Homo sapiens: one gene and its partner. The protein of the gene in region 1 purifies or fractionates together with the protein of each later gene. This does not show direct contact. Each region holds a gene or a part of one and is shown on either strand. Other genes may lie near its edges.

What was found.
Region 2: the proteins of NAA35 (region 1) and LARP4 fractionate together in Homo sapiens (co-fractionation; one large-scale study listed by BioGRID). This does not show direct contact.

What each region holds. Positions count from the first base shown.
Region 1 is NC_000009.12:86,006,875-86,010,696, forward strand, and holds part of NAA35 (N-alpha-acetyltransferase 35, NatC auxiliary subunit), read left to right. Parts: intron 1-483; coding exon 484-590; intron 591-2,990; coding exon 2,991-3,057; intron 3,058-3,822. UniProt on the Homo sapiens protein: Auxillary component of the N-terminal acetyltransferase C (NatC) complex which catalyzes acetylation of N-terminal methionine residues. N-terminal acetylation protects proteins from ubiquitination and degradation by the N-end rule pathway.
Region 2 is NC_000012.12:50,456,189-50,460,010, forward strand, and holds part of LARP4 (la-related protein 4), read left to right. Parts: exon of another isoform or gene 1-240; intron 241-382; exon of another isoform or gene 383-598; intron 599-3,822. UniProt on the Homo sapiens protein: RNA binding protein that binds to the poly-A tract of mRNA molecules. Associates with the 40S ribosomal subunit and with polysomes. Plays a role in the regulation of mRNA translation.

The DNA of each region.
Region 1 (3,822 bases):
TAAGGAAAGGAAAGGAAATTAAAACAAATTATTAAATGCAAGTTGTTTTAAATTTTTTCATGTTCAGAAATGAACATAAAAAATATTAAAAATATTTGTATATGTTACAAAACATTCATTAGAGGTAAACAGGATTATCAAATAACATGTATAGCCATTTACTATTTCATAGTTTATGAAGCATTTTTTAATACATTAGCTCATTTGACATAATCAGATTAGTCAGTTTATTTTGACTATTTTAATATTACTACTCTTGGGAGGTTTTTATTTCTGTACATTTTTTATCCTACATCAGAATTCACCTTCAGTAAGGATTAATAAGTAACACTCATTGTGGAGACAGCAACTTATAAAAAATTTTCACAAACTTTTTATATTTTAATCACTTGCGTAGTCTGTGGCATTTATAAGTATACTGATTTTACACTAATGACAATTCTGTGCGTGACACCGTAACTAATATATAACATTTGTTTTAAGACCACTTTCCTGGTGGATAACAAAAAGGTCTTTGGAACTCATCTCATGCAAGACATGGTGAAAGATGCACTTCGGTCTTTTGTCAGTCCTCCGGTGCTTTCCCCCAAGTAAGTATTGTAAGACATTTTAGAGTTGTATGTATGTGCTCCTTTAAAAGCCCAACTTCTCTGTACTCCTTCTTTATAGCCAAAGTATCAAAATTGGGACCAAATCTCCATGTAAAGTAACTTAATAGTGTTAAAATTAATTGATCTCTGCCACATTGTTTAGATTAAAACTAAGGTTTTTATGAGGTTGACAAAATTTCTGATAACTCCAAGTTTTTTGTCTCCAGCGTAAGTCCTTAAACTTTGCCGTAGTAGAGGCACTGCCCCGAAAACATGCTGCCATCAGAGGCTGAAAGGATTGCATGCAGAAAGAATCATCATTTGAAAGCTGGCATTCTGAGAAATGTCAGGCTTTTCCAACAGGGAAGGGAAGAAAGGAGTCATCATTTCTTAACAAAGCACTTACACTTTGTTAAAAAAAAAGATACACCTAACAGTGTATCTTTTTCCACTGAAAGATACACGATGGCTTTCTATCACAAATTACTTCATGGTAGATCTAATTAATTATATGTAATGGCTGCCAAATATTTCATAATAAATGTTGAGTATCTTTTATCCAAAATGCCCTGGACCAGAGGTGTTTTAGATTTCTGATATTTTTGGATTTTTGAAGTATTTGCATGTACATAATGTTGCTCAGGCTGGAGTGCAGTGGCATCATCTCAGCTTACTGCAACCTCCGCCTCCTAGGTTCAAGAGATTCTCCCACATCAGCCTCCTGAGTAGCTGAGATCACGGGTGCATGTCACCATGCCCAGCTAATTTTTGTATTTTTAGTAGAGATGGGCTTTCGCTATGTTGGCCAGGCTGGTCTCAAACCCTGACCTCAAGTGATCTGCCCACCTTGGCCTCCCAAAGTGCTGGGATTATAGGCTTGAGCCACTGCACCGGCCTAATATGTTTCTTTTACATGGTGGTGTAATTTTTGTTAGCTCAAATCTTTTGAAAGCAGAATTCAGCCTGTTCACATTTGGTATACACTATTGGGTCATGAGTTTGATGTTAATAAATCAACAGTATATTAATCCATTAAATGAGGTGTCTTAAACAGAAATACACATAAAATAAGGTTATTCATTGATCAGTGCATGGAAATGTTGTGACCAGAGACTCATAGGAATCTAACCCTTTATTTCCCATGTTAGCAATGATTTAATAGTCTAATTTAGTATCTTCAGAAACTTTATGGAACATAAATACCACAAATAATGATAATTGTATATATGGAAAACTTTATTGTGTGGTAGTCTAGTTGTTCCACTGTTTTAAAACTTTCAGTGTTATAGATGAGAATCCTCTTTTCCTTTGTAAGTGATTTGAAACTTCTTCTGAAGCGTTGATGAGTTTCTCTTTATTTTAGGAGTTCAGAAGTTTTACCAGAATATTCATGTGTGATTTTCAGCTAGTGCTATCTGGAATTCAGTCATTAAAGACTCAGGTTTTTAGTCAGATCATTTGTCCCTGTTATTACTTATTTATTGCTTCACCTTCATCTGTTTTGATTTTTCCTTTTTTAGAGCTCCTAGCATACTAGGGTCTTCTAGAGCTCTCTTACCTATGCCTCATGACAGTCATCTCCTTGTTATTTTTGCTGTGTTGTGAGAAAGTTCTTCCTCTTGATCTTCAAGGCTACTAATGAACATATTTCTTCTACTGAATTTTTAAATTTGAAAATAATCATTTTTAGATTGAGAGAGCCTTTTAAAGCTTTTAAAGAGCCTTTTAAAAGCTTTATTTTAATCTCAAGTAATTTTCTTGCTTTAGGGTTAAAGATGTAATGAACCTTCAGCACTTCCCATTTCACCAACTGCCTGTTCCAGGTGTTGACCTTTTTTCTTTCTCCTGGGTGCTGGGTGCACTGTCTTTGCCATTGTGTGACCTTGACTCTGTTAATCAGAGATAAGGAACACCGTAAAGGAAACCACTTTGTGAGAAGAGATGACGTGCCAAAGGGAGGTATAGGTGATTTATAACCAATGGTGAGGAGTGGGGATACAGAAAAAATTAGGATCCTGTATAGTATTTTCTTTGTGATTATTATTAGGAGCACAGTCCATGAGGAAATCAATTGTAGGGAAATATGTGACACTGAAGTAGGGTCATGAAAAAGTAGAGCTTTAGACTTTTCCTTTTCTCTTTGCTAATTTGATCTTACTGGATCCAACTCTGATTGTTCAAATATAGACCTATAGGAATTGGAAATATCACAGATTTATTGTGTGAATTACATAATAATTGTAAAATATTTCTTAATCTAATACTGAAATTCTTTAACTTAGGTATCGGTTCCATTTTCTCTTTTATTCACCTTCTCTGTCATTTGGTAGCATCTGCAGTAATTGCTGCTGCTTTTGTTTGGGCTGAATAGATTTTAATGATGTGACTGTTATCTTGCAGGTGCTACCTATATAATAATCACCAGGCTAAGGACTGTATCGACTCCTTTGTTACTCACTGTGTTCGGGTAAGAGCTACAATTTGGATTGTCATAATGGGTACTTTAAAAATCATGGGCTGTGGCCGGGCACGGTGGCTCACTTTGGGAGGCTGAGGCAGGTGGATCACCTGAGGTCAGGAGTTTGAGACCAGCCTGGCCAACATAGTGAAACCCCATCTCTACTAAAAATACAAAAATCAGCGTATGGTGGCGCACGCCTGTAGTGCCAGCTACTCAGGAGCCTGAGGTGGGAAAATCGCTTGAACCCAGGAGGTTTCAGTGAACCAAGATCGTGCCACTGCACTGCAGCCTGGGGGACAGAGTGAGACTTTGTCTCAATAACCATAATAATAATAATAATAATAATAAATTGCTGGACTGCAATTCCTTCAGTGTCTGTGCTTTTTTTCATCTAATATTTCTTGTTTACTTTCAGTGAATAAATAAAAACTGTCTCCTCCTAACACTTGAGTGGATGGTTTTATATCCTAAGGTCTTCTGATAGGTTATTAGCTACAGAGGCAGCCTTGGATGACCTCCCACTGCAGCCTGTGGGGACCATAGATAGGGAATGTTATGACTCTCAACTGGGAAAACAGCAGTTGCTTCCTCAAAATTTTTTGTGAATGGACATAAAAACTTTACTTTTTTTTTTAACCTTAGAATTTTTTTTTTTTTTTTTTTTTTTAAGACGGTGTCTCGCTCTGTGGCCCAGGCGGGAGTGCAGTGGCGCAATCTTGGCTCACTGCAAGCTCCGCCTCCCGGGTTCACGCCATTCTCCTGCCTCAGCCT
Region 2 (3,822 bases), on another chromosome or scaffold:
TCTTTTTGGTGACAGCCAGGAATGACAGTCAAGTTATCTTTACTTATAAGGAAGTATACCTATGGTTTTGAAAATACATGGTGTGTTTAGTACATTTTTGCATGTTACTTAAAACCACTTGTGTACAGTTCTTTTCCATATATTTGACCAATACAGGTTGGTAATTTTTAATTACAGAAATAATTAGTGAATACTTTTTCTAAAAATGCAAATAAAGACCTTCTGGACCAGCAACCCAAATCCTTGTTTCCTTCTTGCTTCTAAAAAGTGACTACTTCTAAAAAGTGACTACTGCCAGGCATTTATTATTATTATTAATGTTAACAGCTAAGGACAAAGTCTTTTTTAGAGAGCCTTTTGCAATTTTTATATTAACCTGTGACAGCCCAGTGATGATCACTATTCCTACTTAGAGAGAATAGGACTAACTTTCAGAAATCCAGGCATTTTTCTACCTTTCATACTATCTTTCTTTCACTTTACTTCTCTTTTCTGTCTTTTATCACTTCTTTCTTTCTTCATTCTTTCTCTCTTTTGCCTGGATCGAGATTGTTAAGTCCCTCTCAGTGAAGGGTAAGATTATGAGATCTGAGGGCTGTATAAATGTAGTAAGTTGTCCCTTAAGCATATTGAAATGTAGTGTGAAAGTTGGATGAAGGACATTTTCTAAACATATGCAAATACCATATCTATCATATCAGTTCATTTTCAAGATGTAACAGGTAATATAAATTTTTTTTTTTGAGACGGAGTCGTGCTCTGTCACCGGGCTGTAGTGTAGTGGTGCAGTCTCTGCTTACTGCAACCTCTGCTTCCCGAGTTCAAGCAATTCTCTGGCCTCAGCCTTCTGAGTAGCTGGGACTACAGGCATGTGCTAGCTAATTGTTGTATTTTTAGTAGAGACGGGGTTTCATCATGTTGGCCAGGATGGTCTCAATCTCTTGACCTCGTGATCCACCCAGCTTGGCCTCCCAAAGTCCTGGGATTACAGGCATGAGCCACCATACCCGGCCTTTTTTTTTTTTTTTTTTTTTAAAGACGGAGTTTTGCTCTTGTTGTCCAGGCTGGAGTGCAATGGCGGGATCTCGGCTCACTGCAACGTCCGTCTCCCGGGTTCAAGCGATACTCCTGCCTTAGCCTTCCAATTAGCTGAGATTACAGACGCATGCCACCACGCCCAGCTAATTTTTTGTATTTTAGTAGAAACTGGGTTTCACCATGTTGGCCAGGCTGGTCTCGAACTCCTGACCTCAGGTGATCTACCCGCCTTGGCCTCCCAGAGTGCTGGCATTATAGGTGTGAGCCACCGCATCTGGCCTAACTATTTTTAAAATTACTTTTTATAGCCAGTGGGGTGGCTCATGCCTATATTCCCCACACATTGAGAAGCCAAGGCAGGCAGATCACTTGATCTCATGAGTTGGAGACCAACCTAGGCAACAGAGTGAAACCTCGTCTCTACTGACAATATAAAAATTAGCCAGGCATACTGGTGTGCACCTGTAGTCCCTGCTACTTGGGAGACTGAGGTGGGAGGATAGCTTGAGCCCAGGAGGCAGAGGTTGTAATGAGCTGAGATCGCACCACCTCGCTCCAGCCTGGGTGACACAGCCAGACCTTTCTCAAAAAAAAAAAAAATTACTTTTTGTTAAGTGACATACTATTTTCATTGCTATTTAAGAAATCTAGTTTGTAATATAAAGTAATTCTATGGCAAAGTGTCACTTTATGTGAAACTCAACCCAACTTTTTTTTTTTTTTTTAAGACAGTGTTTTGCCCTGTCACCCAGGCTGTAGTGCAGTAACATGATCATGGCTCACTGTAGTTTTGACCTCCCAGGCCCAATCAATTCTCCACCTCAGCCTTCCTAGTAGCTGGGACTACAGGCGCATACCACCATGCCTAGCTAAGTTTTTGTATTTTTTTTTTTGTAAAGACAGGGTTTTGCCATGTTGTGCAGGCTGGTCTCAAACTCCTGGGCTCCAATGATCCTCCCACCTCAGCCTCTTAAAGTGCTGGGGTTACAGATATGAGCCACTGAGCCCACTGCGCCCAGCCTGATAATTTTATCTTTGTTTTTGTTTGTTTGTTTTTGTTTTTTGTTTGTTTTTGTATTTTTAGTTAGAGACAGAGGGTTTCACCATGTTGGCCAGGGTGGTCTTGATCTCTTGACCTCGTGATGCACCCGCCTTGGCCTCCCAAAGTGCTGGGATTACAGGTGTGAGCCACCACACCCAGCTACTTTAAGTTTTAATAATGGTAATTTTTTATGGTCTGTAAAGAATAAAACAGGACAACTAGAGATGCTGTGGGAATTTACGTTTAATTGGTGGGGTTATAATTATTCAAGAGGTTTTAAATCCTTATTCCTAGAGTCAGGAATTGGCAACATGTGATTTATATTGTTGGTTTATAACTATGAAAATAGATTACAAAAACTGAGATATATAAACTGCAAATAATGGGCCAAACATAAATCTCACTCTTCTTAATCTGTAGATCCAAGATCCTCAGTTGCTTGAGATTTTAGGTGTTTTTGCTACTGATTAAACTACATTCTTTTTATATTAGTCAACCTTAGCTTCATCTGTTGTAAGCTTTTAGGAAGTTGGGTGCTTATACCCATCATCCAAGATAAAAACTCCCTTTGTTAAAAGCAGATTGGTTGGTTTAACCACATTGCATACCTTAATTCATGCAGTCATGCCATGCTATTGGGTGCATTGGTATTTTCCTAGTTTGCTGTCCTACATATGGATCTTTTGATAAATCTCATTTGGTGATGGATGTTTAGTAAGATGCTAGGTTTTGTTTGTTTTGTTTTTTGAGACGGAGTTTTGTTTTTGTTGCCCAGGCTGGAGTGCAATGGTGTGATCTTGGCTCCCTGCAAACTCCACCTCCTGGGTTCAAGAGATTCTCCTGCCTCAGCCTCCTGAATAGCTGGGATTACAGGTGTTTGCCACCATGCCAGGCTAATTTTTGTATTTTTAGTAGAGATGGGGATTCACCATGTTAGCCAGGCTGGTCTAGAACTCCTGACCTCAGGTGATCTGCCCGTCTCCACTTCCCAAAGTTCTGGGATTACAGGCGTGAGCCACCATGCCCGGCTGAGGCTAGGATTTTAATTATATTCCAATATTTCTTACTCTCTTCATTATTACTCCCCTAAACAGCCTTTTTAGGCATTTTCCTCCTAGTTTCTGCCTGTGAAAATTTACTACTACAGATTATTGTATGTCTGTATGTATGTAATGTATGTATCTGTGCTTTATACATAAAATGATTACTTTTTGCCCTTCCTTCGCCCCCGTTTTTACTCCCATTAGCGTGGTTTTGCTTCCATTAAGAATGCATAGCTGGGCCTGGTGGCTCACACCTGTAATCCCAGCACTCTGGGAGGCCGAGGTGAGCAGATCACCAGGTCAGGAGATCGAGACCATCGTGGCCAACATGGTGAAACCCCATCTCTACTAAAAATACAAAAATTATCTAGGTGTGGTGGCACGTGCCTATAGTCCCAGCTACTCGGGAGGCTGAGGCAGGAGAATCTCTTGAACCCGGGAGGCGGAGGTTGCAGTGACCTGAGATCGCGCCATTGCACTCCAGCCTGGCGACAGAGCAAGACTCCGTATCAAAAAAAAAAAAAAAAAAAAAAAAGGGTGTTATAGGCCAGGTGTGATGGCTCATGCCTGTAATCCCGACACTTTGGGAGGCCAAGGTGGGCGGTTCACGAGGTCAAGAGTTCAAGACCAGCCTGGCCAACATGGCAAAACCCTGTCTCTACTGAAAATACAAAATTAGCCGGGTGTGGTGGCATATGC